Linked DNA regions of Homo sapiens. The protein of the gene in region 2 interacts with the protein of the main gene of each other region in a pairwise test. Each region holds a gene or a part of one and is shown on either strand. Other genes may lie near its edges. The genes, in order: ASB3, HEXB, GPR75-ASB3 and NXF2.

The links.
Region 1: the proteins of HEXB (region 2) and ASB3 interact in binary tests that used the Homo sapiens proteins (3 or more experiments, as listed by UniProt).
Region 3: the proteins of HEXB (region 2) and GPR75-ASB3 interact in binary tests that used the Homo sapiens proteins (3 or more experiments, as listed by UniProt).
Region 4: the proteins of HEXB (region 2) and NXF2 interact in binary tests that used the Homo sapiens proteins (3 or more experiments, as listed by UniProt).

The regions. Positions count from the first base shown.
Region 1 is NC_000002.12:53,783,927-53,791,075, forward strand, and holds the start of ASB3 (ankyrin repeat and SOCS box protein 3), read right to left. Parts: upstream 3,028-7,149; 5' UTR 2,895-3,027; exon of another isoform or gene 2,359-2,894; intron 1-2,358. Other genes in the region: ERLEC1 (endoplasmic reticulum lectin 1 isoform 1 precursor), read left to right, coding at 3,285-3,446. UniProt on the Homo sapiens protein: Probable substrate-recognition component of a SCF-like ECS (Elongin-Cullin-SOCS-box protein) E3 ubiquitin-protein ligase complex which mediates the ubiquitination and subsequent proteasomal degradation of target proteins. Recognizes TNFRSF1B.
Region 2 is NC_000005.10:74,688,212-74,695,238, forward strand, and holds part of HEXB (beta-hexosaminidase subunit beta isoform 1 preproprotein), read left to right. Parts: intron 1-1,116; coding exon 1,117-1,262; intron 1,263-5,427; coding exon 5,428-5,493; intron 5,494-7,027. UniProt on the Homo sapiens protein: Hydrolyzes the non-reducing end N-acetyl-D-hexosamine and/or sulfated N-acetyl-D-hexosamine of glycoconjugates, such as the oligosaccharide moieties from proteins and neutral glycolipids, or from certain mucopolysaccharides.
Region 3 is NC_000002.12:53,709,946-53,716,972, forward strand, and holds part of GPR75-ASB3 (GPR75-ASB3 protein), read right to left. Parts: intron 6,799-7,027; coding exon 6,621-6,798; intron 4,637-6,620; coding exon 4,439-4,636; intron 1-4,438. Other genes in the region: ASB3 (ankyrin repeat and SOCS box protein 3), read right to left, coding at 4,439-4,636, 6,621-6,798. UniProt on the Homo sapiens protein: Probable substrate-recognition component of a SCF-like ECS (Elongin-Cullin-SOCS-box protein) E3 ubiquitin-protein ligase complex which mediates the ubiquitination and subsequent proteasomal degradation of target proteins. Recognizes TNFRSF1B.
Region 4 is NC_000023.11:102,306,142-102,313,168, reverse strand, and holds part of NXF2 (nuclear RNA export factor 2), read right to left. Parts: intron 6,144-7,027; 5' UTR 6,091-6,143; coding exon 6,048-6,090; intron 1-6,047. UniProt on the Homo sapiens protein: Involved in the export of mRNA from the nucleus to the cytoplasm.

The DNA.
Region 1 (7,149 bases), on a different chromosome or scaffold from region 2:
GGCATGATACAAAAAAATCTCAGTAAACAGGTATGCAACTGACTTGTAAAGCAACTAGTCTAAATTACATGTGTGAGAGCTGGAAATACAGCTTCAGGAGCAAAATGAGTTTATTTTAGCAAACATGGTGCCATTATTAGGAAGCTAATAGGATACCTTAATTGGCAGAGGTAGAATTACATTTTTTCTCTGCAGATGCAATCATACTTAATAGTTTTATAGCGAATGATGATTGTATAATTACAATATGGTAAATAGTTGATAAGTTTTCAATGTTTAAGAATCAACCTATAAATAAAGCATAAAAGACTTGTACTGATTGATGTCCTGTGGCTCCTTAAAATGTGTAAAACCCAAGTGTAGCCCGACCACTTTGGGCACATGCTGTCAGGACCTCCTGAGGCTGTCTGTGACACGTCCTTAACCTTGGCAAAATAAACTTCTAAACTGGTTGAGACTTGTCTCAACTACTTTTTGGTTTTCATCCTCTATTACCTTCCTGAGGCTGCTGTAACAAATGACCACAAACTGAGCAGCTTAGACAGCATAAATTGATTGTCTCACAATTCTAGAAACTAGAGGTCAGAAATCAAGATGTCAGCAGGGCTATTCTCTCTCTCTGAAAGCTCTAAAGAAGGATTCTTCCTTGCCTCTTCCTAGCTTGTGGTGATTACTGGCAATCTTTAGCATTCCTTGTCTTATAGACACATACTGCAATCTTGCTGCCTCCTCCTTCCTGGCATGGCATTCTCCCTGTGTGTCCATGTGTATCCAAATTTCCCTCTTCTTATAAAGATACCAGTCACCAGATTAGGGCCCCCTTTGATTCAGTATGACCTCATCCTTACTTGAATTATATTTGCAAAGACCCTATCCCAAGTAGTTCACACTCACAGGTTCTAGGGGATAGGACTTAAACATGTCTTTTTGGGGAACACAATTCAACCCACAACACCCCCTACAATCAATTTTCCACACAGCAGCCACAATGATCTTCACAAATGTACATCGGGTCCTGTCCACTCTCCTGCCTACAGAGCTGTCTCCCTGGCCTCTTTCTGCTTCTCAAACTTCTTCTACCACTTTCCTCTTACACTCCAGCCACACTGGCCTTCTTTCTATCACTCCAACACATCAAGCTCATTCCTGCCTCAGGGCCTCTGCCTAGAAATTTGTCTGGCTCCCTTCTTTTCATCATTCAAGTCACAATTCAAATGTCACTTCCTCACAGAAGTCTCCTCTGACTTACGTACTAAAAGCAACACATCCTACAGGTATTGTCTTTCACATAACCTTAGTTTCTTTGCAGCACTTACCAATACTAGAAATTATTTTACTTATTTAAGTTCCCCTCTTACTTGAACATCAGCTCTATTGAACACAGATTCAATCACTATAGCCCTAAATGCTAAAACAGGACCTCACAGACAGTTTTCATTTTTATTCCGTCAAATACATCTCTTTTCCTTCATGACTTAAGACTAGTGCTTAGCACAGAATAAATGCTAAAAAAAAAAAAAATTGACTATTACTACTATAATAGTTTGCAATTATTTGTTTGTACAATCTCCCTGCCTAGACTGTGTGACCAAAGACAGAAACCCATTTATTTGGCATTTTACCAAGCCCAGGGGGGCCAGGCACAGTGGCTCAGGCCTGTAATCCCAGCACTTTGGAAGGCCGAGGAGGGCGGATCACCCGAGGTCAGGAGTTCGAGACCAGCCTGGCCAACGTGGTGAAACCCTGCCTCTACTAAAAATACAAAAATTAGGGTGTAGCGGCGCGCGCCTGTAATCCCAACTACTCGGAAGGCTGAGAAAAAGGAGAATCCCTTGAACTCCAGAGGCGGAGGTTGCAGTGAGCCAAGATTATGCCTCTGCACTCCAGCCTGGGTGACAGAGCGAGACTTTGTCTCAAAACAAACAACAACAACAAAAATCCCAGGAGTCTGGATCACATTAAGCATTAATAAGAAGTGCTGAATATAATTAGCGAATAACAATTCTGAAGAAAGTTATCTTCTTTGATACTATGGATTCCTGATGTTAAAAAAAAATTTTTAAGATAGAATATGGGACTGTCCTTCCTGCTTTTTGATTTGGTTCAAATCTGAGGAAGTGGGGGCGACCAGTCTTTAACAGATCTAGCAAGACTGTCGAGCTTTAGGGAATGGTAATTTCTCTAAAGCCAACACTCTATGTCCATTATATTGGAGATCAAAACAGACAATGGCATTTTTTCTAAAGAGGGGGAGGGAAAAACAAAACTTTTTGTCTAATTTGGGGATGCAGTCAGACGTGACTTAGTTCATAAACACACACATTCATCTGGCGCTAAACCTCACATAAGGAACCTTACCAGCTTCCTTGATAAAACAACACCCCAACACTTCAATCTAGAGATGGAGGGTAAAAATGTAGGGTTGTGATGTCTAGCTGCCCATTCCACGAGAGTCGCCCACCACGCCAAATTCGGAGGCTTGCGGTATTCACCTACGGGGAGATGGCGGGCTACCTCACCCCAGGTTTCCCCTAACACAGAGTTGCAGTCGCTGAACAAACTGCCCTGCGTTAGTCAGAAGCTGTTAAGTAACGAGATGGCCACGGTCCACAGCAGAAGAGATGGAGATAAGCCTCAAGCGGGAAAAATGAAGTGTACAAATGCCAAATGCGGAGAAAAAGAAGAAAAGCTGCAAGAAGGCAGGTCAGTCAGGAACACCGCCATTTCTCACATCTCATCGCTACTTCGAATTTTCTCATCTAAGGACCCGCACCCGCACGGTTCACACTGTCTTCTTCCCGCTATCACTCCGTGTGGGTCAAACCTCTGCCTGCCCACTGGAGAGCAGCGGGAATGGCTTCAGGAAGCGGCTGCCGCCTCCGAGACTCACCGACCTGCCGTGCTGCCACTTCTACACCGAAATGGCTGGTCCGAGGCCGCGTCTCCAGAGCTGCGTCCCAGAAGCCCCCGCTTTCGATCCCCACCGCGATGCTGCAGCCGTCCGAAAACGAGAGACGCGCAGGCGACGTCCCGGCCCCCGTAGGCGGACGGCTCCGCGACCCCCGGATGTTGATATGTCGTCTGCCCCGGAAACGGTGACAGGAGGCTCAAGGGGGCGGAGGCGGCGTTGCCGGGCTCTCCGGAAGGAGACGTGGCGGCGGTTGGGCCGGTGATACCCGGGCGCTTTATAGTCCCGCCGCCTCCTCCTCCACCTCCTCCTCCTCCTCCTCTCCTCCTGGAGCAGAGGAGGTTGTGGCGGTGGCTGGAGAAAGCGGCGGCGGAGGATGGAGGAAGGAGGCGGCGGCGTACGGAGTCTGGTCCCGGGCGGGCCGGTGTTACTGGTCCTCTGCGGCCTCCTGGAGGCGTCCGGCGGCGGCCGAGCCCTTCCTCAACTCAGCGATGACATCCCTTTCCGAGTCAACTGGCCCGGCACCGAGTTCTCTCTGGTCAGTGCCCTCACTAACCCCGCAGCCACCCCTCCTCCTGACACTAAGGGTTCGGCCTCTTCCCTCGGTTTTCTTTGCTTTTTCTCCCCAAGACCTTCTCTGCAGACTCTTACCTTCCCCAAGCCAAAGCTGCTTTTATGCAGCGTTCATTCATTCGTTCGTTCTCACGTTATGTGGATGCGTCCCCCTTGCTGAGCATTAGGGATCCAGCAATCACCTGCTCTCCACCTTTTCAATTCTGTCGCACTAGACCTTGCTTCCCAACATTCCCACCCTGCAGAAGCAGCTTTCGTAGAATAACGTCAGGTGCACTTACTCATCTTCCTTTCGGAAAATTAACTGTGGCTCTTACTTCACCAGCAGACTTCTTTCCTTCAGTATTACATGTCACCCTGCCCACACCACAGTACTTCAGACTCGAGTTCCCTCTCTCGTATTCGTTCTCCCTCAGTTGTATACACACACGGACATACGCAAACGCACAGCTCCAAGGGAACTTTTTCCTTTCCTAGTTGTTTCTGAGAGGGCTATTTGGCCTGTGAGATGTTAACGACCCTTTATGCAGAATATCCTTTACAGTTTTCATGTATTACGACTGTTATTTGAGTCCCCAGAACATGAGCTTCTATGTTGAGTTTTCCTGTAGTGAAGAACATTTGTAACCTCGCGGAAATGAAAATTCCCTCTTGGGGGAGTGGACCGCTGAAAAGTCTTCCTGTCCACGTGTACCTACTGCAGGCTAATAAATATTGTACTCTTATGACACTTACCATGTAGTAATTAACTCATTTACTTCAAATTGAAGTCCCGGAAAAAGCAAAATTTTTTTAAACTTTTTATTCCAATTACCTTCAAGCATTCAACTTGCAATACTTTATTATATTCTTTCATTACCATTTCATTGAAACAGTAAGTGACACTATGATGTCAAAACAAGATGTGTCAAGTTAATGGATGTTATTACCACATAGCTTTCTATTTGCAAGTGTTAGGGGTTTTTTGGTTTGGTTTGGTTTGGTTTGGGTTTTTCTGTTTTTGTTTGTTTTTTGAGACAGGGTCTCAGTCTGTTGCCCATTCTGAAGTGCAGTGGTACGGTCACCACTGGCTGCAGCCTCGACCTCCTGGGCTCAAGAGATCTCCTCAGCTTCCCAGTAGCTGGGACTATAGGGAAATCCCACCACTCCTGGCTAATTTTTTTTTTTTTTTCTAGAGGCAGGGTCTCACTATGTTGCCTAGGCTGGTCTCGAACTCCTGGGCTCAAGCAATCCTCGTGCCTGAGCCTCCCAGAATACTGGGATTACATGTGTGAACCAAATGTTCTGAATTTATCTAGGTAAATATTTTTCTGGGACGTCAAATTTCTCTTTGTATTAATGCCACAAAATATTGATACATTGAAATACCTATGTAAAATTTTGTTATGAATCAGATATAACTTTAGCAGGCTTGGAAGAGAATACTTTAATACCTGTTGTTGTATCCAAAGAGCACACTTGGAGTGAATATGGCAGATGTTTGAAGAATTATGTCATTAAAATTTTTTACTCTTGGCACCTGTGTTTTTTTTAATTTAAAAAAACTTGCTGATATGCAGCCCTGAAAACTTACTATAAGCGAGCGACTAAAACTAGCATTTTTAGAGGTCACTACCAAATTGTCATTCCATTTTCTTTCAGTCTTAGCATTTGCTACACCAACTTTTCACGTATCTAACAATTTTATTTCAAAAAAAAAATGCTTTGGCCATGTGCGGCGGCTCACATCTGTAATCCCAGCACTTTGGGAGGCAGAGGCAGGCGGATTATGAGGTCAGGAATTCAAGACAAGCCTGACCAACGTGGTGAAACCCCATCTCTACTAAAAACACAAAAATTAGCTGGGCGTGGTGGTGCACACCAGTGCTCCCAGCTACTTGGGAGGCCGAGGCAGGAGAATCGCTTAAACCCGGGAGGTGGAGGTTGCACTGAGCCAAGATTGCACCACTGCACTCCAGCCTGGGTGACAGAGTGAGACTCTGTCTCAAAAAAAAAAAAAAAAAAAAAAATTCTTTTTTTAGAAGCTGGAGTGCAGTAGGTATTTATAGGCATGATTATGCTCACTACAGCCTCAAACTCCTGGGCTCAAGCCATCCTTCTGCCTCAGCCTCCTGAACAGCGAGGACTACAGGTGGTCACCATTGCATCTGGCTTTTTTTTCTTTAAGTCTGTGCTACTTTGAGAAAAATCTAGAGTGTTCTGTGAATTGTCACAAGGCCTATGTCCTTTATGTAAAAATAAGCCACAATAGTCATTATCATTGGTCTTTTGATTTTTTTTAATACTTCTATAACCTTAAGGCTTCCCTTTGCATTTAACTGAAATTACTGGCTGGGCACAGTGGCTGACGCCTATAATCCCAACATTTTGGGAGGCCGAGCTGGGTGGATTACTTGAGCCCAGGAGTTTGAGACTAGCCTAGGCAACATGGCGAAACCTTGTCTCTACTAAAAATAAAAAAATTAGCCGGGCATGGTGGCACATGTCTGTAGTTCCAGCTACTTGGGAGGCTGAGGCAGGAGAATCGCTTGAACCTTGGAGGCAGAAGTTGCAGTGATCCGAGATCATGCCACTGCACTCCATCCTGGGCGACAGAGGAGTCTGTCTCAAAAAAAAAAAAAAAAGAAAAGAAAAGAAACCACTACTCTCCTCACCTGGCGCTGCCATTTTTTTTAATGGGCCAGTTGGTTGGACATTTGTGTTTGTGACAGAGTCTCGCTCTGTCACCCAGGCTAGAGTACAATGGCGCCATCTCAGCTTACTGCAACTTCTGCCTCCCGGGTTCAAGCGATTCTTGTTGCCCAGCCTCCCCAGTAGCTGGGATTGTAAGCGTGCGCTACCACACCTGGCTAATTTTTTTTTGTATTTTTAGTAGAGATGAGGTTTCACCATTTTGGCCAGGCTGGTCTCAAACTCCTGAACTCAAGTGATCCGCCCACCTCGGCCTCCCAAAGTGCTGGGATTACAGGCATGAGCCACCGTGCCTGGCCGCGGGTTGGACATTTGTATCTAACTAATATGCAGCTGTATGAAATAGGATAAGGTCCTTTGTCTGTTTACTAACTGAAATTGGAAGAGACTGGATTAGAAGATCTGAATTTTTTAAGCTTTAAAATTGTCTGCTTTAAATTGTCTTCCCATTCAGATATATCAAAACAATATATAATTATTTACAATCTTGCTTTCAGATTTGCTTAGAAAAAGTATTAAGCACCAAAACTGTAAAATGGGGGTTGTTTGTGTGTTTTGGTAGAGATAGTTTCCCTATGTTGCTCATGCTGGTTTCAAACTCCTGGTCAAAACTATCCTCTGGTCTCAGCCTCTTAAAGCGCTGGGATTATAGGCATGAGCCACCTCACCTGGCCAAAAAATTTGTGTATTTTTGATGTGTACATTAACTAGAGTTAATAATTATGATATTCTTTGCTTATTGATGTTTAGCACTCAGTTTTGTTTTTGTGTTAATATTTTCCTTCTGAAGTATCACCTCTGTCGTTATGTTTAATTATTCATTACTTTATAGAGTTCAGAGATTTCACCAAATTAAACCACAAATCAGTCTAATTTTCTGTCTACTTCTGTTGTTGATGTAGAATATATTTTACTCAGATTTTCCCAAGCACTACTATTTGACCAACTCCATGGTTTATAGCATGTCATATACATTG
Region 2 (7,027 bases):
ACCAACAAAAGGTACTTTTTTTGTATTTAATATTAATATTAATATTTAATGCCTTTACAATATTTAATGCCTTTACAGAATTTTTATTTAATATTCTCTGATTTTTGGATACCAACAAAAGGTACTTTTTTTTTTTTTGAGATGGAGTCTCGTTCTGTCACCCAGGCTGGAGTGCAGTGGTGCGATCTTGGCTCACTGCTGCAACCTCCACCTCCCGGGTCCAAGCAGTTCTCCTGCCTCAGCCTCCTGAGTAGCTGGGATTACAGGCGCCTGCCACCATACCCAGCTGATTGTTTGTATTTTTAGTAGAGACTGTGTATTTTTAGTTTCACTATGTGGGCCGGGCTGGTCTTGAACTCCTGACCTCGTGATCCTCCCGCCTTGGCCTCCCAAAGTGCTGGGATTACAGGCATGAGCCACTGCAGCTGGCCAACAAAAAGTAAATTTTAAAGGCTCTGGTGAGAATTCTGGACCTTCTTTTGGGGCTTTATATGTAAGCTAGGATACTTTTGCAGGAAGGTAACAGGAACTCTGACTCAATCTGGCTCAAACAATAGGAAAACTTATTTCACACATTAGGATGTCCAAAAGTAGGGATGAATTTAGGGCAAGTTGACCAAGTGGCTCAACAGTGTTACCAGGGATCCATATTCTTTCCATCTCTGCTCTGTCCACTTTAGTGTAGTGGCAACTAGTCCAGCTCTCACATACAGAGAAACGAAGTTTTCTTGTGATTTGCTCAGAACTCCCCCTAACCCCCACATCCTATCACTGGTCAGAATTGGTTTTTCATTCCCAAGAGTGATGGATTACCATGATGGTTTCATTATTGGTTCTTAACGGGGCTTCATATGTCACTTCAGAGTGTGGGGAAGCATTTAAAATTCCCATGCCTGAATCCCATTCTAATAGATTCTGATTCTGAAGGCATGGACGTTGGGATTTTCAAAAAACTTCCCAAGTGATTCTAATGTACAGCTTGGGGTGAGAATCTCTAGTTGGACTTACAATGGGCAGCATGGATTTGAGGAGTTAACTACAATGTTACTAGCACATCTGTTTTAAAAATTTGGCTAAAATCCTTCTAAAATGTGTTTACATTTATTTCTCAAACAGATATCATGGCTATATTTTTGGTTTCTACAAGTGGCATCATGAACCTGCTGAATTCCAGGCTAAAACCCAGGTTCAGCAACTTCTTGTCTCAATCACCCTTCAGTCAGAGTGTGATGCTTTCCCCAACATATCTTCAGATGAGTCTTGTAAGTACCTATGCAATGTGAGTGTATTATATCCCAGGTGCTCGCTGACGGACTTAAGTGCCAAAAACTGACTCCATGCTAGGAACCACTGAGTTCTCAACCAGTGAGTTTATGATTCCTATTTTAAAAATAACCTTTAAAGTCTGATTATAAAAGTAGTACATAGTCTTTGTGGAAAATTTATTAAGTACAGTAAGTGCAGAAGAAGAAATAAATCACTCATAATCCCAGCAGATAGAATTAATCACTGTCATTTTAGGTGTATTTTTTTGCAGAGTAAAACATGTAAACATTTTACATAGACATAAATACAAACATGATAAGCATTGACATGAAAATGGCAGTAATTCTGTACATGTGCTTCTTGTATTTTTGTTGTATTTTTATATCATGCTTTTTTGCAAAATACATTATAAATTAAACATGAATTTCACTAGTTTTCTGTGATATCATTTTCAATGGCTGAATAATGTTCTGTCACTATATGGATGAGCTGACTTGGGTAATCTCTTTTGGACATCTAGGTAATTTCTTAACTTTTTGTCTTTGAAAACATCTGTATCCATGATCTCTATTTATAATCTAATTTTACAGAAAGATAATGCAGAGCTAGGGGAGAGGGTGGGTACAGCAGTTTCATTTGTAATCTGCTGTACAATATAATCAACATTTAGCTGTATGATTTTGTCCTCGTTGTTGCCTAAAACGTTATTCTCTAGGGCTTTTCCCAAATTGTTTTAGAACAAATAAGTGGGCGTGCCATTTCTATAGGGTATACTGCCTGAGAATAATGTGGAATTGCACCAAGGAATCAAAGAAGGGCAGTATAAGGACATGTGTAATATAAGATTCGTGCAAGAAAGAGCAGACAGGGGAACTAAGTGTAAAGATAGAGGCTGGACGCTGTGGCTCATACCTGTAATCCCAGCACTTTGGGAGGCTGAGGTGGGTGGATCACTTAAGGCCAGGAGTTCAAGACCAGCCTGGCCAATATGCTGAAACTGCATCCCTACTAAAAAATACAAAAAGTTAGCCAAGCGTGTTGGTGCGTACCTGTAATCCCAGCTACTCGGGAGGCTGAGGCAGGAGAATCACTTGAACCCAGGAGGCAGAGGTTGCAGTGAGCTGCAATCATGCCGCTGCACTCCAGCCTGGGGGACAGAGTGAGACAGTCTCAAAAAAAAAAAAAAAAAAAAAAAAAAAAAAAAAAAAAAAAAAAAAAAAAAGATAGGATGCCACAAATTTAGAGAAAAGAGCAACTCCATTACCCCCAGACTGCCTCACAGTTAAGTACATGTCTTCATCCTGCTGGTTTAGATGAGATTTCTCAATAATACATCTCTTTGAAAAAAAGCTTTCTTTCTCTTCAATTCCATAGCTGTTCTTAGAAGAGAAATAGGAAAATTCACCAACATCAGGTATCATTTCAATTGATACTCAGCACTCAGACACCATGTGAAGTAGGTTTTGCAACCTGAATTGAGATGGAAATGGTCATTACGTTGCCAAGGAATCTTTGCTGTCCATTGGCAATACAGATAACAGATTGTAAATTCCACAAAATGAAATGTATCGAGACTAGAGAGTCATAGCTTATCTTTCAGTCAGTTCTACAAACCCTCTTTATTCTGAAAGGGAAGTTTCTTGAGACAAGGTTATTGTGAAATTTTCAGCTGAAGAATAAACTAGTTTTTAGTCTTTAAACTAGTTGATGATGATGATAAAAGTAACACATATGAATGGAAATAACAAGATATCAAATGTCCAGAGTGGGAGGACATGTTGGAGGAGGTGACACATGTTAAAGCACCACTATTTATTAAAAATAAAAATATGCATGCCCTGAGAAGTGGACTAGTTTTTACTGCAGATAAATGGACACATAAATCAAGGATGTTTGATGCAGTTTGCCTGTAATGTGAAGAACTGTCAATAAAACTCAATGTCCATCAATAGAGGAATGGCTAAATACATCTTGTCAATCTATACTAAACAGTATAATCACAACAGTTAAGAATAAAGAAGCAGTATTACTGAGAACACACATGGAGAACTGACAAGATAAACTGCTGAGTTGAACAAAGGAAGCTGTATAATTATGTGTAGAGGTGGACCCTGTTTATATATCAACACACGTGCAGGAACACACGCATAAAGCAATACTATATTTTCTCCTTCCGTGTACATCTATGTCAAGCCTAAGAAAATGCCCGATAAGTATTTCCTCTGAGGAAGGTAGAGGGAGTTAGGTGAGTATCTCAAAGGAGATTTTAGCCTTATCTATATTATATTGCTTTTAAACAGAATATATAGATATGTCATTTGTATATTCACCCTCCAAAACAAATGTATTTATGGTGCAAAAAGATACAGAATGGGCTAACTGAAAAGTCAATGATATAATTCCTTTCACACTTCAGGGAAGTGATCATTGTTAACACTAATAACTTGGTTGTGAAGTAAAAATGGAAATTCTATAGCTATGTGTCCATATATTTAGAAAACCAAATTTCTAATTGTTATATGTATTTTCCACTGAGTTGAATTACAGTCCTGTTTAATATCAGCCAGTTGTCAACTATTAGAAAATAATTGGTATCAAATATATGCAATATATTAATGTTTTTTAGGTGACTGTGCTATTTCTGGAAGATCTCAAAACTAGAATGTGGCAAAAAAATGTTTTTAAACAGTGACCAATGGAGCAGTGAGCTCTAGGTAGCTGATTAAGAATTTGATACAGGCTGGGTACAGTAGCTGACACCTGTAATCCCAACACTTTGGGAGGCTGAGGCCGGTAGATGGCTTGAGCCCAGGAGTTCAAGACCAGCCTGGGCAACATGGCAAAACCCTGTCTCTACAAAAAAAAAAAAAAAAAAGAAAGAGAAAAATTAGCCAGGCGTGGTGGCACATGCCTACAGTCCCAGCTACTTGGGAGGTCGAGGCTGCAATGAACCGTGATTGTGCCACTCCACTCCAGCCTGGGCAGCACAGTGAGACTCTGTCTCAACAACAACACAAGAATTTGCTATAGATGTAGAGGAAACATAATTAGACTATGCTCATAAATAGCAATATAGTTCTTAGCCTGGCATTGGCTAACTCATCTAATGGAGTGTGGTTATCTAATGGAAAAGGCTATCTTGTCAGAAGACTATCACCTGAGATGCTCACACTACTGATAGAGCACTTTTGCCTACCTGCAGCTAACTATTCTGTGAGCATCTGAATGGTGGTGGTGGTAGAAGGTGATAAACCACCCCAGAGGACACAGTATTAAATCATTAATCTCCAGCCCATCAGTGTCTTTGCCGTGGCAAAGTCCAAAGCTGTTACACCCTTTAGCTTTCAATCTCTTTACCATCTGTGGGTTTACTATGTGGTTGATTCCACTCCAGACCTCTCTAAAAGACTAAATGACTATTGGGCCAACCTTAGAGTGTGCTTCAAAGATTGAAAGATTAGCCTCTCACCAGAAGCAGCTAACTGGAGTCCCATTCTGGATGATGTGAACTTTTAATTGAGTGGGACAAAGCTGAATTATTTTTATTGAGTGAGACAAAGCTGAACTAAGCTAAAGGGATTTGGAGAGTAAGTCTTAAGGCAGATTTGGATGATACTGAGGGAAGGTGGGTACAGGGCAAGTAGAAAATTCTGAATGCAAAAGAGTGGAGATACTCTCTGGCCTTAAAGGGAGTAGATTTGAGCGACACCTAGGGCGTTACCAAGGATTAGTAGGAACTGAGGAATGTTTGCACTTTCAACTAAACTCTTAGCTTAACTAGGACCCTACTCTGTTGAGGAGAAGTTGGAGAGACTAACTCTTTTAGGAAAATGAGGAAACATGGAGTTGACACCCAAATTCCCGTTCTGAGTGACTCAAGTGACTGGATGGTGGTGCTGTGACTCACTGAAATGAGGAACACAGAAGACCAGCAGGTTGAAGTGTGCGGAGGAGGGAGGGAAGAGTTCTGTTGGGGCATGTGGAGTCGAAGGAACCTGCAGGACATCCAAATGGAGATGTACAGGAGGCAGTTAGAGAAATAGGTCATGTGCTTGGGAGAAAATAATAGTCCAGAAATATCAATGACATGTTTAGGAAACTTATTGTGTGTCATTGAGGGATTAACAAAAGTGTGTGTGTGATTTTAAATCCTCAATACAGATACTTTACTTGTGAAAGAACCAGTGGCTGTCCTTAAGGCCAACAGAGTTTGGGGAGCATTACGAGGTAAGTTCCATGCAGTTTCATTGTTACTTTCCAGTAAAGGAAAATTTTCAGTTGGTGCTTTGTGAAATTAAGCACAGCAAAACTTTGCCGCCTTAGATCCTTTACAGAATGCTTTGTTATGTAGTTCCAAAATGATTTCCATTGAACATGTACTACATAAAGCATGGGAGAGGTCAGCACAGTGGCTCACGCCTGTAATCCCAGCACTTCGAGAGGCTGAGGTAGGTGATGATTGCCTGAGCTCAGAAGTCTGAGACCAGCCTGGGCAACATGGTGCAACTCCATCTCTACAAAAAGTACACAAATTAGCCAGGCATAGTGGTGTGGACCTATAGTCCCAGCTACTCTGGAGGCTGAGGTGGGAGGATTGCTTGAGTCCAGGACGTTGAGGCTGCAGCGAGCCTAGATCACACCACTGCATTCCAGGCTGGGCAACAGAGCAAGACCCCTGTCTCAAAAAAATACAAATAAATAAATACAGCATGGGAGAAAACTCATTTGACCTCTCAAAAAATGTTTGAAGGTTATTACATTCCTGCAGTGCTGTAATTCATTGATGCTCTTGGGACTGTAATGTTTATAGCACTACACATGGCCCCAACCTGTCCTGATTAGGGAATTTTGTTTCAGCTATCACTTCTGTTGACTTCAGAAGCAAGCATCTCTCTTCCCTAATTTTAAATTCCTGTAGATTTAGAAACATAACTAAGTTTGTATAAGGAACAGTGTCAAAAGGCAAATATGCTATAGAGTTGGTTAGAGGCAGTGGGCAGGGAGTAACTTGAAAAGCTTCTCATGAGAATTTCAGAGTCTGAACTTCAAAGTTTGACCTCAGGACATTTGCTGTTCAAAAGTTTCTTTTACCTTTCTTTCTAGGCAGATAAGATACTGTACTGACTTCCGAATAGCAGAGTTTTTAGAAAGGGAATTTAAAAAAACATGAACTAACCAAACTTAGTCATTAAAATAAAGGCTTGGGATTGATCATAGTCACTCACACCTGTAATCCCACCACTTTGGGAGGTTGAGGCAGGCAGATCACTTGAGGTCAGGAGTTCGAGACCAGACTGGCCAACATGGTGAAATCCCATCTCTACTAAAAATACAAAAAAAAAATGAGCCAGGCATGGTGGCGCATGCCTGTAATCCCAACTACTTGGGAGGGTGAGGCAGGAGAATTGCTTGAACCTGGGAGAGGGAGGTTGCAGTGAGCTGAGCTGGCACCACTGCATTCCAGCCTTGGTGACAGAGCAAAACTCCATCTCAAAAAACAAAATAAATAAAGATTTGGAATCTGACTCAGAGTGTTACCTAAAATAATCATTGTTATGCTATATATTTTATACCATAAGATTATAATTTTATTCAAAATAGAATATGAAAATATCTAGATATTTACTACAAATGTAATTTTATTTATGTATAATATTAGTGATTTTAAGCTTTTATTAGTCCAATCTGCCTGTCTCATCTGCGTCTGCTAAGGAGAAGAGACGCTTTTTTTTTTTTTTTTTTTTGAGACAGAATCTTGCTC
Region 3 (7,027 bases), on a different chromosome or scaffold from region 2:
GTGGGGAGGCTTTTATAGAGAGAAACCGAGGTTTCCTGCCAACACCCAGCCATATGAGTGATCCATGTCAGTGAGCCTCTGTGGAAGTTGATCCCCTGGCTCCTGTCAAGCTTGCTAATGACTGTAGCTTCATCTGATATTTAATGCAACTATAAGAGAAACCTCCAAGCCTGAACTGCCCACCAAGCTACTCCTGAATCTCTAACCAACAGAAACTCCAGAAGCTGCATGGCTGTGCCACGCCAGTCTGCACGCTCCAGCTGCCAGACAGCATGTCTTCCCCTTTGTTAATAATTTCTAATGGTTTACTTTCAAGTTAATTTACTCTTTCCTATATCTTTCATTTGGCTATGGAGTCCATGTAGTAAATTTTTCATTGCAGATTATTGTATTTTTCCGTCTTTTTTATAGTTTCTACTACTCAGCTGAGAATTTCTACCTTTTCATTTTTTCCAGTGTGTTAGCCTCATGAAGCACCATTATAAGAGCTGCTTTCAATTATCTGATATTTCTAATATCTGGACCATCTCAGGACTGGCATCTATTAATTGCTTTTTCCCATGAGATTTAGTAATGTTTTATCAGTTCTTCATATGTCAAATAATTTTAGGTTGTCTCCTGGACATTGTGAATGTTATGCTGTATAAATTCTGAGTCCTGGGTCTTGTTATAATCCTTTGAAGAACACTAGCTTTTTGGTTTGTTTATTTCAGCAAGCATATAACCTAGTTAGGTTCAAACTGCAATTTCTGTTTTACCTTATACAGTGGTTCCAACGTCAGCTCAGTTCTCAAAAGCCTTGACTTTCCTGCTTTAAGCTTGGACCCATGAATGTGCCACTCAGGGTCTAGCCTGAGACTCTGATGATAGTTCAAATCTTACTTTCAACATTTTGGGTTGGCTGGGTGCTGTGGCTCACGCCTGTAATCCCAGCACTTTGAGAGGCCAAGGCAGGGAGATCACCTGAGCTCGGAGTTCAAGACCAGCCTAGGCAACACGGCAAACCCTGTCTCTACAAAAAATACAAAAAAAAAAAATTCCAGGCATGGTGGCGCACAACCGTAGTCCCAGCTACTCAAGAGGCTGAGGCAGGATAATTGCCTGAGCCCAGGGAAGTCGAGGCTGCAGTGAGTCATGATCATATCACTGCACTCTGTGTGGGCAACAGAATGAGATCCTGTCTCAAAAACAAAACAAAATAAAAAACAATTTGGGTCTATCTTGTGCATTTAAAGCTTGGGGTAAGTCAGGAATATGCAAATTCATATGCACAATTAGGGTATCCGCTTCTCCAAGCTCTCTCTTCTCCAAGATTCCCTACCATTCTCTGGCCCACAGGGTTCCATTTACCTGATTCCTCTGACCAGAAAAACAGGCTTTCTATTGTGTCTATGTTTCAGCTTCCTCAGTAAGTTTAACAGGATCTATTTAGTGCTCTCTATATTAAACAACTGGTCAATTAATGTTACTGACTGATATTAGCTGCTGGTGCCACTGGTGCTACTCAGCTCCAGATCAGGGTTGGCCCTCAGGGCAACACAGCAGAAGAAAAAGAAGGCCAGGCGCGGTGACTCATGCCAGCACTTTGGGAGTCCGAGGCAGGCAGATCACTTGAGGTCAGAAGTTTGAGACCACCCTGGCCAACATGGTGAAATCCCATCTCTTTTAAAATACAAAAAGTAGCTGAGCATGGTGGCACATGCCTACAATCCCAGCTACTTGGGTGGCTGAGACAAGAGAATCACTTGAACTCGGGAGATGGAGGTTGCAGTAAGCCCAGATCGCGCCACTGTACTCCAGTCTGGGCAACACAGCGAGACAGTCTCAAAAAAAAAAAGGAAAAAGAAATGGGAAAATTCGTTTTCATGTGGGTCACTTCACCAAGTTACCACTCTCTTTCATAATCTATCTGCTTTTGTTCCTTTGAGAGTCCTCAGGTAGTTTCTTTTTGAATTTTGACCACAGTTTTTTGTAGTCATTAGAGAGAAAGAGAGAGGCTGTAGTGGAATTACTCCACTGCATGTTAAGAACTTCTTAGCATCACTGAAGTTTACACAGAAAAAAATTCTACAGAGTAACTGAGACATAAAAAGCAAACCAAACTGTGGAGTTCCTTAAAAATACAACTTTGGAGTACTTGTGAAAGGAAAAGAAAAAAAATCATTTATATCACTATTCAAGAATGAGATAATAGCTCCTATTTGCAGTTATCCCAGACACAGCAGAAAAAAATAGGAACCTTCCCTTCCATGAGTCTCTATAAAAAAATACAAAAAAAAAAAAATACATTAAAAACGCTTCTTTGCCAAAGACAGCAGAAGATAGTGAAGTAAATGCCACTAAATACTGTTTTTCCCATTAGGTTTTAAATTCCTAAAGGATCGTGTGTATGTTTCAGCTTCCTCAGTAAGTTTAACAGGATCTATTTAGTGCTCTCTACATAACAAAATGGTCAATTAGTGTTACTGACTGATTTTGTAGAAATCAAAGGAGAAAAAAGGGTCTGCCCCCTAAAATTTCAACTAATCTTGGAAAATCCAGAAACCTATTTAAGATCTTTCCCACCTAATTTCATTTATCCGAATCTACAGAAGGCATGAAACATACTGCCCAGCTCCCAAGGAATATCATTAATTTTAAGGTGTTTCAGAGTTAACAGGGGTACTACATTATATGGCTTAATTCAAACTACACTTATAAGGTGATGAGGCGTGAGCTTAGCTGCTGTGACCAGAAGGACCAAAAACATTGTTCATCCAAAAGATAAGATGAAGGCCAAAAAAGACCATCATCATATTGAACACACACACACACACACACACAGGCGCGCGCGCGCGCGCAATCCAAAATCATTATATTCTGGTCTAATAAGAAATGTTCAGTTCTGTAACGGACTTAAGATTTGGGATAGAGAAAGGCAACTAAAAGTTATCAGTGCAACCTCACTGAAGGTCAACTAAAGTAATTAGGGCTCTTCTGTTTAAAAAGACAAAACTTAACGGGGTACACAAGAAAATCCTATGAAATCATGAAAGTTATACATAAAGTGGGCCCCAGATACTCAGATTAACCAAAACCCAAATATTCAAACTAAAATGTATAAGTTTAAGAGGCCGGATGGGGTGGCTCACACCTATAATCCCATCACTTTTGGAGGCTGGAGGCAGACAGATCACTTGAGGCCAGGAGTTCGAGACCAGGCTGGTGAAACCCTATCTCTACTAAAACGTGTAAGCTTAAACTTGAAACAAATTATAGTGAACTACTAATTTTACATGGCAAATGTTAAGAGATAGTAAAGGCTGAAAAGCTTAGTAAATAATTTCTTGATAACTACTCAAATTAAATAGAGATTCATAATAGTGAATTCAAGAAGGCCAATACAATTTGAGGTATGCCTGCAACCTCTTCTGTGTCATTAAACACAATAGCATCTATCTTCATAACTTATTCCATTATTGGATGACCAGATATTACTCAATATGGCTGTTCTTACACACAGCTTTATTCTTAGTGTTTTAAAACTGTAAGAGTGTTATAGACAAAGTTACTGGCCAGACACTAACAAGGCAGCAGTAATTCTTCACTTAGTCTATTTCACAGAATTATGACAGATTAGAAAAATAATTAATTTGGGGGCGTTTAAAAACTTAATTATTTAGACTCACATCCAAAAATAATATAAAGCCAGGCATCGTGGCTCATGCCTGACATCCCAGCATTTTGGGAGGCCGAGGCAAGGGAACTGCTTGAGCCCAGGAGTTCAAGACCAGCCTGGGCAACATGGAGAAACCCCATCTCTACTAAAAATAAAAACATTAGCTGGGAGTGGTGGTGTACACCTGTAGACCCAGCTACTCTGGAGGCTGAGGTGGGAGGATCACCTGAGCCTGGGATGCAGAAGTTGCAATGAGTCAAGATGGTGCCACTGCACTCCAGCCCGGGCCACAGAGTGAGACCCTGTCTCAAAAAAAAAAAATTTTTTTTAATGCTATCCACCAAATACATTAAAAACACAATAATATCTATAAAACTAAAGTTTAATTTTTAGGCTTATATCTTATAAATTTGAAACGGTAAATGACCTGAAGCAGTCACTGCCTTACTTGATAAAGCCCCATTTTTAATTCTTGAATTGTTTTGAAGACCAAAAATATCAGCAAATTTCTGCGTCTACTTAAATTGTACGTATTCCCTAAGATTGCTACACTAAAAATATAATCCAGATCCAAAGAAGGAAGGAAAACAATGTGATATTATCACCTCATTTCTGCTTCAGCTTGACTGAAACATCATAGTTTTTTTCCTATTTGTGTTCCAAGATAGCAATTTAGCACTAACAGAGATACTAAGTTTCATCGTGAAAGAAAGTCACTTCAAAACACATCTCCATACAGCAAAAAAGAATAAAAAATAAAAACATAGCAAATATACATACTCCTTTTGGAAAGCCATGCACACAGGAGAACTGAATCCAAAAACAAGGCACGCCTGGGCGTCTGGGCTGTAGCCATTCCGGAGTAATATTTCTAGGCAATCTTCATGTCCCCCAAACACTGCTGAGTAAACAGGGCTTACTTTGTTTAGCCCAGTGTCACAGGCCCGGTTAGTAAGTGGTATTAACAAGTCCAAGATTCTATAAATACACAAATTCAGGAGAATTTAGTGTTTGTATATGTGCATAAATGTAGGCAACATTTCTATAGCACAATTTTTTTCAGAATTACCAACTGATTCATTTAAAGAAATATTTCTGTCTAGGGTGTACCTTCTACCAACAACATTAAACTATTACATGCTATATATTTACTCCAGAATGTTACACTTATTATTGCTTAATAAAAAGGTCTTTAAATACATTTGAAACAAAATTAATGTTCCTATATGTAAACAGAAAAGGTGCTCTTTTAATTTTATTACCTTACTAGCACCACCTTAACCCCCAAAATTCAAATTTTATGTTAGATATTTTAGGGTTTAATAAATTATTTAAAACATCATTCTACTAAGTATAAACTGGCATCAAGAAAATGCACTATTTTCCTTCTTAAAGTACCAACTAGTTTTTCTTTTCCAATTAGTAAAAATTTTTAAAGATGATAACTGGCATGAAATTAAGACTAATGTTTTCATCAGGAAGAAATTATAATTTGTGCTAAAATATTCTATTATCTGAAAAAAAAGTGAGCTCATTAAATATGGAGGCAGATTTATAAAGAAGCTGGCTCCTAGGTAGAGAAAGTTCTAAGAAAATAATTAAAACAAAAGTTCTTAGGTTATTTGTAAACTTACCTCTAGCAGTCAACTGGAAAGAAAAAAGGACTATTCTACCCTTCTAAAATTAAAAATAAAACTGTATAGTTAAAGCCAGGAAATTCCTTCTTTCTGGGAAAAGACAGACAGGGCTACTCTGAAGTATTTTCATAGTATTACATTTCTCTTTGTGACTTTTCCTCATGTAATGTATGTCTAAGATAACATTTAAGTAGAACTTACACTCACAAAAGGGGTTACCTTTGAAGTAGGCTATAAAGAAAATCATCAGTGACAATGAGAATTCTCAAAATTGAGAACAAATGCCCAGGAGAGTTTTGGTACCATTTAAAGTTCAGAGTACAATATCTAACACTTATGTTTAAATAAATGATCAAGAATTGGGGAAAATATCAAATTTTTAAATCTAAGTATTTTGTTAAAATAGTCTAATGTCTCTTAACTTTAATAAATGTGTTTAATTTTTTTAAGTAGGTGGGAAAAATTATACTCTCCCACAAGACATAAACATGCTTACAAATATCATTAATGAAATAGTAAAGTACTGTGTCACCTAGTGGCATAATGACCAAATTGCAGAATCTGTTTTCCTACTATGTAAACAAACTAAATTAAGTAATGAATATTTTACTATTACTTTTTAAATTAAATAATACTAATAGCAGCTATAAAAAGTGCTATTATAGAATTATGGCTCTAAAGATTCTAAACATGTATTTCTAAAAATTATTGACTGCCAATTTATGATAGGTAGCCATATTCTCACATATATTTCTAAAAATCATTGACTGCCAATTTATGATAGGTAGCCATATTCTCACAGGTATAACCAAGTTACTAGCTTCTAAGATTCCTGGAACCCCCATTTACTCTCTCTCCAATTTGAGGTTAGATCAAGAAAAGTTCAGTCAAAGGGTTTAAGACAGGGAGGACTACTTAGCACACACTCCAACAGGCATCACAAACTCAAAAGCTTTCTGGGGTCAGAGAGGTAACATGGATGGCCTCATCAGATTGATGCTTAAAGATGCCTGGGATAAAACTAGGGAGGAGGAGGCGGCGGATACAGCCATAACTAGAGAAATCAATGGGAAGAGTCAACACCCCGAGAAAGTCCCTGAGCCTACCCAGTCTGTAGCAATTCTGCCTCACAATATGAAAGTGCAGGAATAGTAGGAGCAAAAGACAGCATGAAGGACAGATTAGGGGTAGATCTGTTCACCCAGCAGATTGGTAGGGAAGAGAATATCAAAGACTTTGCCTAGAGGTGAAGGGTCTAGCCCAGATTTATTCTTTATTAGCTTTTGATTAAGAGACCATGTTTATTTTCTGTTTTTAACACTTACTTTGTATGGCCCATTTGTGCAGCTGCATGAATAGGTAACTGCCAACTGTCCTCATTACAGTAAAGATCAGGATCTGCCCCACTGGAGAGCAAAAGCTCCACACATTTTGTGTGTCCCTCTTGAGCAGCAATGAACAAGGGTGTAGCTTTGTCCAAGGCTTGACAATTGACATTTGCACCTAAGGGTACAAAATAAAACATTTAACAGATAACCCTAATACTTAAAAAAATCAACACAAATTTCAAAGGAACTACCATAAAAGGGTTTCGTAGCACGGTAAGCTTTTCCCTCTTCACTGAATGTTGGATGTTGTTATATAAACATATTTACTTTGCTAACTTCTTGGTAATCATTTAAATTGTCTTCGCTAAACTGACAGGGTAGCTCATGCCTGGAATCCCAGCAAT
Region 4 (7,027 bases), on a different chromosome or scaffold from region 2:
AAGGGGCATGAGTACCTGACATACAGGGTGAAAAGGCCAAGGGATGGATGTGTGGGTCAGAAAGAAGAGGGTGAGTACAGAGAAGACAAAGAAACACACATTGAAAACGCCTCCAGGGAACTGAATTCATCCTGGCGATATGCTCCCCTCTGAAAACCCTCCTTCCTTCCTGTCCATGTACATCTTGTCTGTCCCTGTTACTTCACTTCAAGTTGAACACCAGAGAAACAGTTCCCACACAGTCCGAAAAAAGGAGAGATGGTATAGGGCAACACTGTGCAATGATGAGTCTCTTGGACAGAAGGCTGGAGTCGGGACATTGGTTCCAGAAACCACACCCATCATTGCCCAGCAGACTTTGAGTGGGCCCTGTCGTACTGCTCATTTCAGCCTTGACACAGAGTCGCACATTATTGGTTATGGGCCTAGGATTTGTGGTCAGATCCATCAGGATTTCAATCCTGGTGCTAAATTCTATGATCCAAGGCAACTAAGTGACCTCGCTGTGACTCAAGTTCTTTTTGCTTGTTTTCCCCCTAACTCAAAGATAGTAACAGTTTCTACCTCATGGGCTACTGTAAAAATTAAGTGAGTTAACACATGGAAACACGTGAAAAGCACCTGGAGAAATGCCCGTGACCTAACAAGCACTATAAATAAGTTGTCTATTACTATGTCGAGAACGTAGTACAACATCTGGCGTTTATTGAGGGAGAAATACGTGTTAGTTGCATTCGTTGTTATTAGTCCTCCTGGAAATGACAAGGAAAAGAGATGAGTGAGTGGCATCTGGTTGCCATGTCAGCTATTAATGTATCTTACAAAGCGGCAGTAGTAAAACAGGGCAGCCCCGGCTCCAGTGGGGAATCATCTGACATATGGGTTCAGGGAACCAAAACAGAAAGCTCAGAGCATGAAACAGGTTATGCGGAAGGATTCAGTAGGGAGCTTAAGTTCCCGTTTCCGATCTTTCAGGAAAAAAAAAAATGTATTATTATGCAAGAAATGTTTCAGGTTTAAGTGGCAGACTATAAGCAACAAGGTAGAATACTCGTCACGCCACGTGATACAAAGGGAAAGAAAAACAAAGTCAGGTTATAAAACTGTATATTACAGTATGATTCCTCAGAAGAAAATATTAATGAGAAGTTATGTTTTCATTTGTAAATATAAACACAAACAAGTCAGGGTAAAGGGACACGTGAGAATGTCAACCATGTGTAGAAGTAGGTGGCTGGAATGCAGAATGGTTATACTTTCACACCTACGCTTCATACTTGTATAAGAGGATGTTTATGGCCGGGTCAGGGTTTTGTCAAGTGCTTGGGGAGAAGCACTTTTCCTATCGACCCATATACAGCATAATGGAAACCGTTTATTACTGACAATCAAGTGTGAATATCTTCTCTCTGATTAATAAGCTAACCTCACTTTTGACGACTCATTCAACTTCTCCTGATCCCAGGTTCCTTACATGTAAAAATCAGAGATTAGGGCTAGCTACCACCTCAATCAAGATATAGAACATATAACACAACCCAAAAGGTTTCCAGTCGATCTCCTCTTCATCCCTTGGCTCCGTGCAAACATTGATATACTTTCCGTTACTATATATTCATCTTCCTGTTCTAGGATTTCACACAAATGGACTTGTGCATGCTGCACCCCTTTGGGTCTGGCTTCTTTAACTCGGCATAATGTTTCTGAGACCCATCCATGTTCTTGACTTTTCCTTGCTGAGTAAAAGCCCCTTGATGGATATACCATAATTTGTTCACCTTTGATGTTGTTTTAATGAAGTTTCAGGAGGAAGTGAAAGGAGATCCTTGCCTTCAAAAAGCCATCTTTCTTGGGCAGTCTTCTATTCTTTCGTAATAGACACAATTTCATCCTTTATCACTCCTTTGTCTCTCTGGGGAAATATTATCTTAATGTCTGTTTCAGCCTCTTCCATTCTTTCTGTTCCCTCAGTGCCAATTATTGGATTTGTTGAGTTTGTGCCATCCCTTCCTTGCTGATCCTGGGTTGTGGATGTCTTCTGCAGAGGAAGCTCCACTGCTGAATCAGCCCTGGGCTCACAGACACTTAGCTTTAATCCATACCTTGCTCTGGCCTTGCCGGCAGTTTAGCTTCAAGCCGGACACAACCTGTGGTGGCCCCGGCTTTACCACTGTGTTTTCCCATTTCCTTTCTCTTTGAAAAAGACAATCTTCTCGATGTCTTACATGGGAATCTTTATTTCATATTTTCCAGCGTAACTATGTATTTATTATTACTGTAATATTATCATTCTGAAACCACAATTATAAAATTTTAAAATTAAATATTGTGAAAGGCTTGCATTCTTATGATTTAAATTGTTCAAGCAGTTCTCAACCATGATTACACATTAGAGCCACTTGGGGACACTGAAACAATTCACTAGCACCAGGACACACCCAAAACAATCAAAGCAGAACCGTGGTTAGATCCAGGCAACCACATTTTTTAACTCTCCATGTGAATTGCAGTGTGCAACCAAGGTTGAAAACAACCGTGTTAAAGCCTCAGTTTTTGGCTTATGCTTGCCAGAGGATCCTAGCAATAGCTGCCTCCTCATTTTGCTGACTTCCCACTCAGCACTGTTTTGGGGACCCAGTGAGTCTATTAGCTTAGAGGTCAGCAACTTATTAGCTTAGAGGTCAGCAACTATGCCCTGTGGGCCAAATCTACCCCAGATCCCCATTTCCTTCAAGGTCTTTTGCTTGCAACCAATTTTGCTGCCAAGTACTCTGTTAATCAAGGTCCCAACTTGCCTATGCCAGAATTCACTCTAGCTCTTTTATACAAACAAGATATCTCTAATAAAATATATTACATAGCTTACAAAAACTCTGTGAGGGCCAGAAAAGCAGGCCTGGATGCTGCACAGCCAGGAGAAGTCCACCCACGTGATGGAACTGCTACAGCTGAAATACCACTGCTGCCTGCCCGTTAATTGACATGCATGACAGAGACTGAATTCTAGAAACTCTGCAATGGCTGCCGCATGAAAACTGGAGACCTCCCTCATCACAGGTAGTCCACCCCACATATGGCTCCCATGTTATTCAGTTCCACTTCTGAGTCTCATGTTGGCACATACGCTTGATGCGATAAATATCCCATTTGAGACCCTAACTGCAAGGGACTCTGGTAAATTGTATGTGTGTGAGAGTGTATTTGTGTGTGTGTGTGTGTGTGTGTGTGTGTGTGTGTGAGAGAGAGAGAGCGAGAGAGAGAGAGAAAGAGAGTGTGTGCGCACATGCGTGGGGTCATGTGCATGTGTGTTTCCTTTCATGTTCCAACTTTCTAGTCTCTACAGTACAGGAAAGCATATAAGAATGTTTAAGAGTGCTGGAATAGTTGCCAAGTAAGCAGATTCATCGTATATTTCACAAGACATGTTTTCTGTTGTAAATGGTATATTTACAATAATGATGGTATTTTCTTTGTTACAATGGTTTGTGTATGTTCGTCTTATAGCCAACAAACTTGTTAATCTCCATTATTATTTTTAATTTTCTGTAGCTTCTCTTGAGTTTCATATGAAGATAGTCACGTTGACAGCTTTTTCACTTTTATACACGTATTAATTTATGTATGTAGGCATGCATGTATCACAGCTTACCGCACTGCCTAGTATGACATATGGCTTACTGCACTAGACTCAGTACGACATTGAACAGAATTCGTCATACCAGTCATCTTTATCCCTTTTCTGATTGTAAGGAGAATACTTCTAATGTTTTACTATTAAGGGTGGTGTCTGATGGGGTCTATTGTTTTGATACCCATTGTCAGTTTAAAGAGATAGCTTTCTATATTACCGATCTGCTGAGAATTATTGGTATTGTTGTTGTTCAATCCCGGTTGGTTAATTTATTGCATACTTTTTTTTTTAACTGGATCTTTTGTGGTATTTGTCCTGTCCTCCTCCCTTTATTCAGCTAATGTGTTAGATTACATTATGGATCTCTTAAAATGTTAAACTCAGCTTGCATGCTTGGGATTAAACACAACCTCGTCATGCTGTATTATCTGCTTTACCCATTGTTGGGTTTAGTTTGCTATTAATTGATTTATATTATTTGCGTTTATGTAACTAATTCGGGTTGGCTAGTAATTTTGCCTTTGCATGTATTCCTTGTCAAGAATACATTGAATAAACCAAGGTTTTCTATTCCTTCAGTTTGGAAAGTTATATATATTTTTCCCCTGGAATTCATCTATTTAATCTAAATTTTCAAATTTTCACATCCTTTTCATAATGTGATCTTTTTCAATCTTTTCTGTCACTGTAAGTGTGACACTATCTTCATTCCAAAAGTGGCTGACCCGCACCACCTCGCTAATTTTCTCTGCCCGTGTGGCCAGAGATTTTATCATTATCCTGCGCTTCTGAAACACTGACATCTAGCAATTTTGTTCAACTCTCTCACATGGTGTTTTCACTTTCATCAAGGTAGGCTCTATTTTTTTATCATTTTTCCTCAACATAGCGGTAAGACATGGGGATTATTCCACATTAAGTAAATGATCAATGAAAAGTCCTTTCATCTACCACCTGGTTTTATTTTTATAATTGAATACAATGGATATTCAAATATCCAATACATTCCCTCATTTGGAAAAGACCTCTGGCTTATCAGTGCTGGTCTTTTTAACCAGTGCCATCGTGTCTATTCAATTAAACTATCAGATGATTAAGGAAGAGGGCATTGCATCATTGATGTAAAAGAATTTTTACTATAAGCTTCCTTTAAGAGAAGAGCAGGCAGCGTAGAAAGAAGCAGAAAGGACATCGACTTTGAAATCACGCCTGGGTGGATTCAAATCCTGATTCTGTCACTTACGGCCGATGTGATGTTAGGCAAGTACTTAATCCCTCCCAGCTTTGATTCCTTCATGCAGTAGTCAGTGCTGCCATTTACCAAGTGTTTACATTCTCCCCTGTACCAGGCACCTGGTAGGACTGCCCGACCCGACTGCCTTCCTTGGGGCAGGGCCGTGCATGTGACTAGCTCTGGCCAATGGGTTGTGAGTGACGAGTGACACGGGTTATTTCTGGGTCAGAACCTTTGGTTGTTGGTTTGAGACCCTCTACGGCTCTCTCCCACTCTGACGCAGTGAGTAACCCCTTTCTAGATGGTGGCTGCTCCATTAGTTTGGGTCTCTGAGTCATTCCAATAAGAATGGCTCAGAACCCAACATCCACCATCCCGTGAAGGATATGCACCTGGCATAAACATGCAGCAGGAGTGAGAAATAAGTCACTGAGGTTTGGGGGTTGCCTATAAGCACAGCGTTACACTCAGCCTCTCCTGACTCATATATCTCATCTGTCAATTAAGATAACACCCTCTCAGGACTTTCCTGAGGGTTAAATGCAGTAACTTGCATGACAGCCGAGGTTATCACAGTGCTTGACATATGACAGGGGCTCAAACTATGGCAGCTGTAATTATTAAGTAATAATAAAATGGTTCTGAAGAAGTGTGGTTTTTTATTGTGTAAAATGAGCGGTACTGCATCTGCTTGTCCTGACAGGTAAGTTGTATCTTGTTTTCAAGAGTGGGGGCACTTTATTTGCTGCCACAGGTAAGGCTTCCTAATGACTTGCATTTATGCACATATTGTCTGCCACCACCATGGTATCAGATGCATGCTTGGCGGTATCTCTGAAGAGTAAAAAAGTACAAAGATTCAAGCAGGAGAGACTGACTGATGACATGAGATAAAATGAATTAAAGAGCAACAATCAATGTCTTAATGAGCAGACTAGATTACAACTATTATAAACCCACATTCCATTGTTCTGAGTAAACAAAGGCACAAGGTTTTAAAGTGTTAGAAGATGTAGTCTGAACAGGGTTTCCCCAAATATTTTCTGAAGAACACTGGTACCTCAAATGCTCTGTGGAAAAAAATGTTCCATTCCCATACAAGTTGGGGAAAGTAGCCCCCCCTTTGAGACTCGTGTTGTTTATTAGCATATCATCTAAAAAAATCCTACAGTATTCGTTTACCTTCAGTTCTGTATGTCCCACACTTCTTTAGAGTAGAGCACATTTTGTTGTTGCTTTGTCCTGACACTACAGTCTCACAGAACGAACTTGGAAATGCTGAAATGAGAGAAAAATAGATTATTCAACCTACATGTAATATCAAATATCACAAGTGACAATATTCTCTAACCATCTGACAAGCAATATTTGAAACCCCGTAAGTTTAAGCACAATCTTGCTATTTGCTCAACTTCATTCACCCAATACCGCTTTCATGATGTACCAAATGTTATCACCCATGATTGTACCTTAAATCCATTCACTATACTTTTTTCCACAGGAAGAAAAGGAGAGAGTTTTCAGAAAGGAATCTAAGAAGCAATCATTAGAAAATCAGGGGTTGATGGGGGGAGAATCAGAAACAAAAGAGTGTGAAGCTATACTACTATAAGCTACTGAGAGATCCTAAGCGCACACACACACAAAAAAAATGTCACCCACTCCCAAATGTACTTTTTAAAGCCAATGGAGTTCAAATAAAGTATAACAAGTAAATTCTGAATCTTCACATCATGACGACTTGGACACTTTTATTGAAATATCAAATTCTCTTTTTAAAAAAATTCCCGATTCCCCTCTCTCCCTTTCGCCCACCCCCCTGAGCCCATGTTTAGAAGGTTTAGTAGAAAAATAAATCATGGAAACAAAGAGAATCTTTACATAATCAAATAAGAGACAGAAATTAAGATTGGGTCTGGAATCGTCTATACAAACTGGGATCTAGGCAGTCTCGAGTGTCCTTAATAACAACATGGTCTGAGGAGGGGCAGAGGACAGAATCACCTGGCACAGACGGTGAATCGGGCAGAGTGACAGGCAAGGGTAGGGCTTTTAGTGTGGGGGCGGGAAGGGGGGGGAATCCCATCAGGCTTCCACAGCCCTGCCCCTGAGAAACGACTTACGAGTTCATGAATCCCTGCCGCCCCACTACCAACCCTACC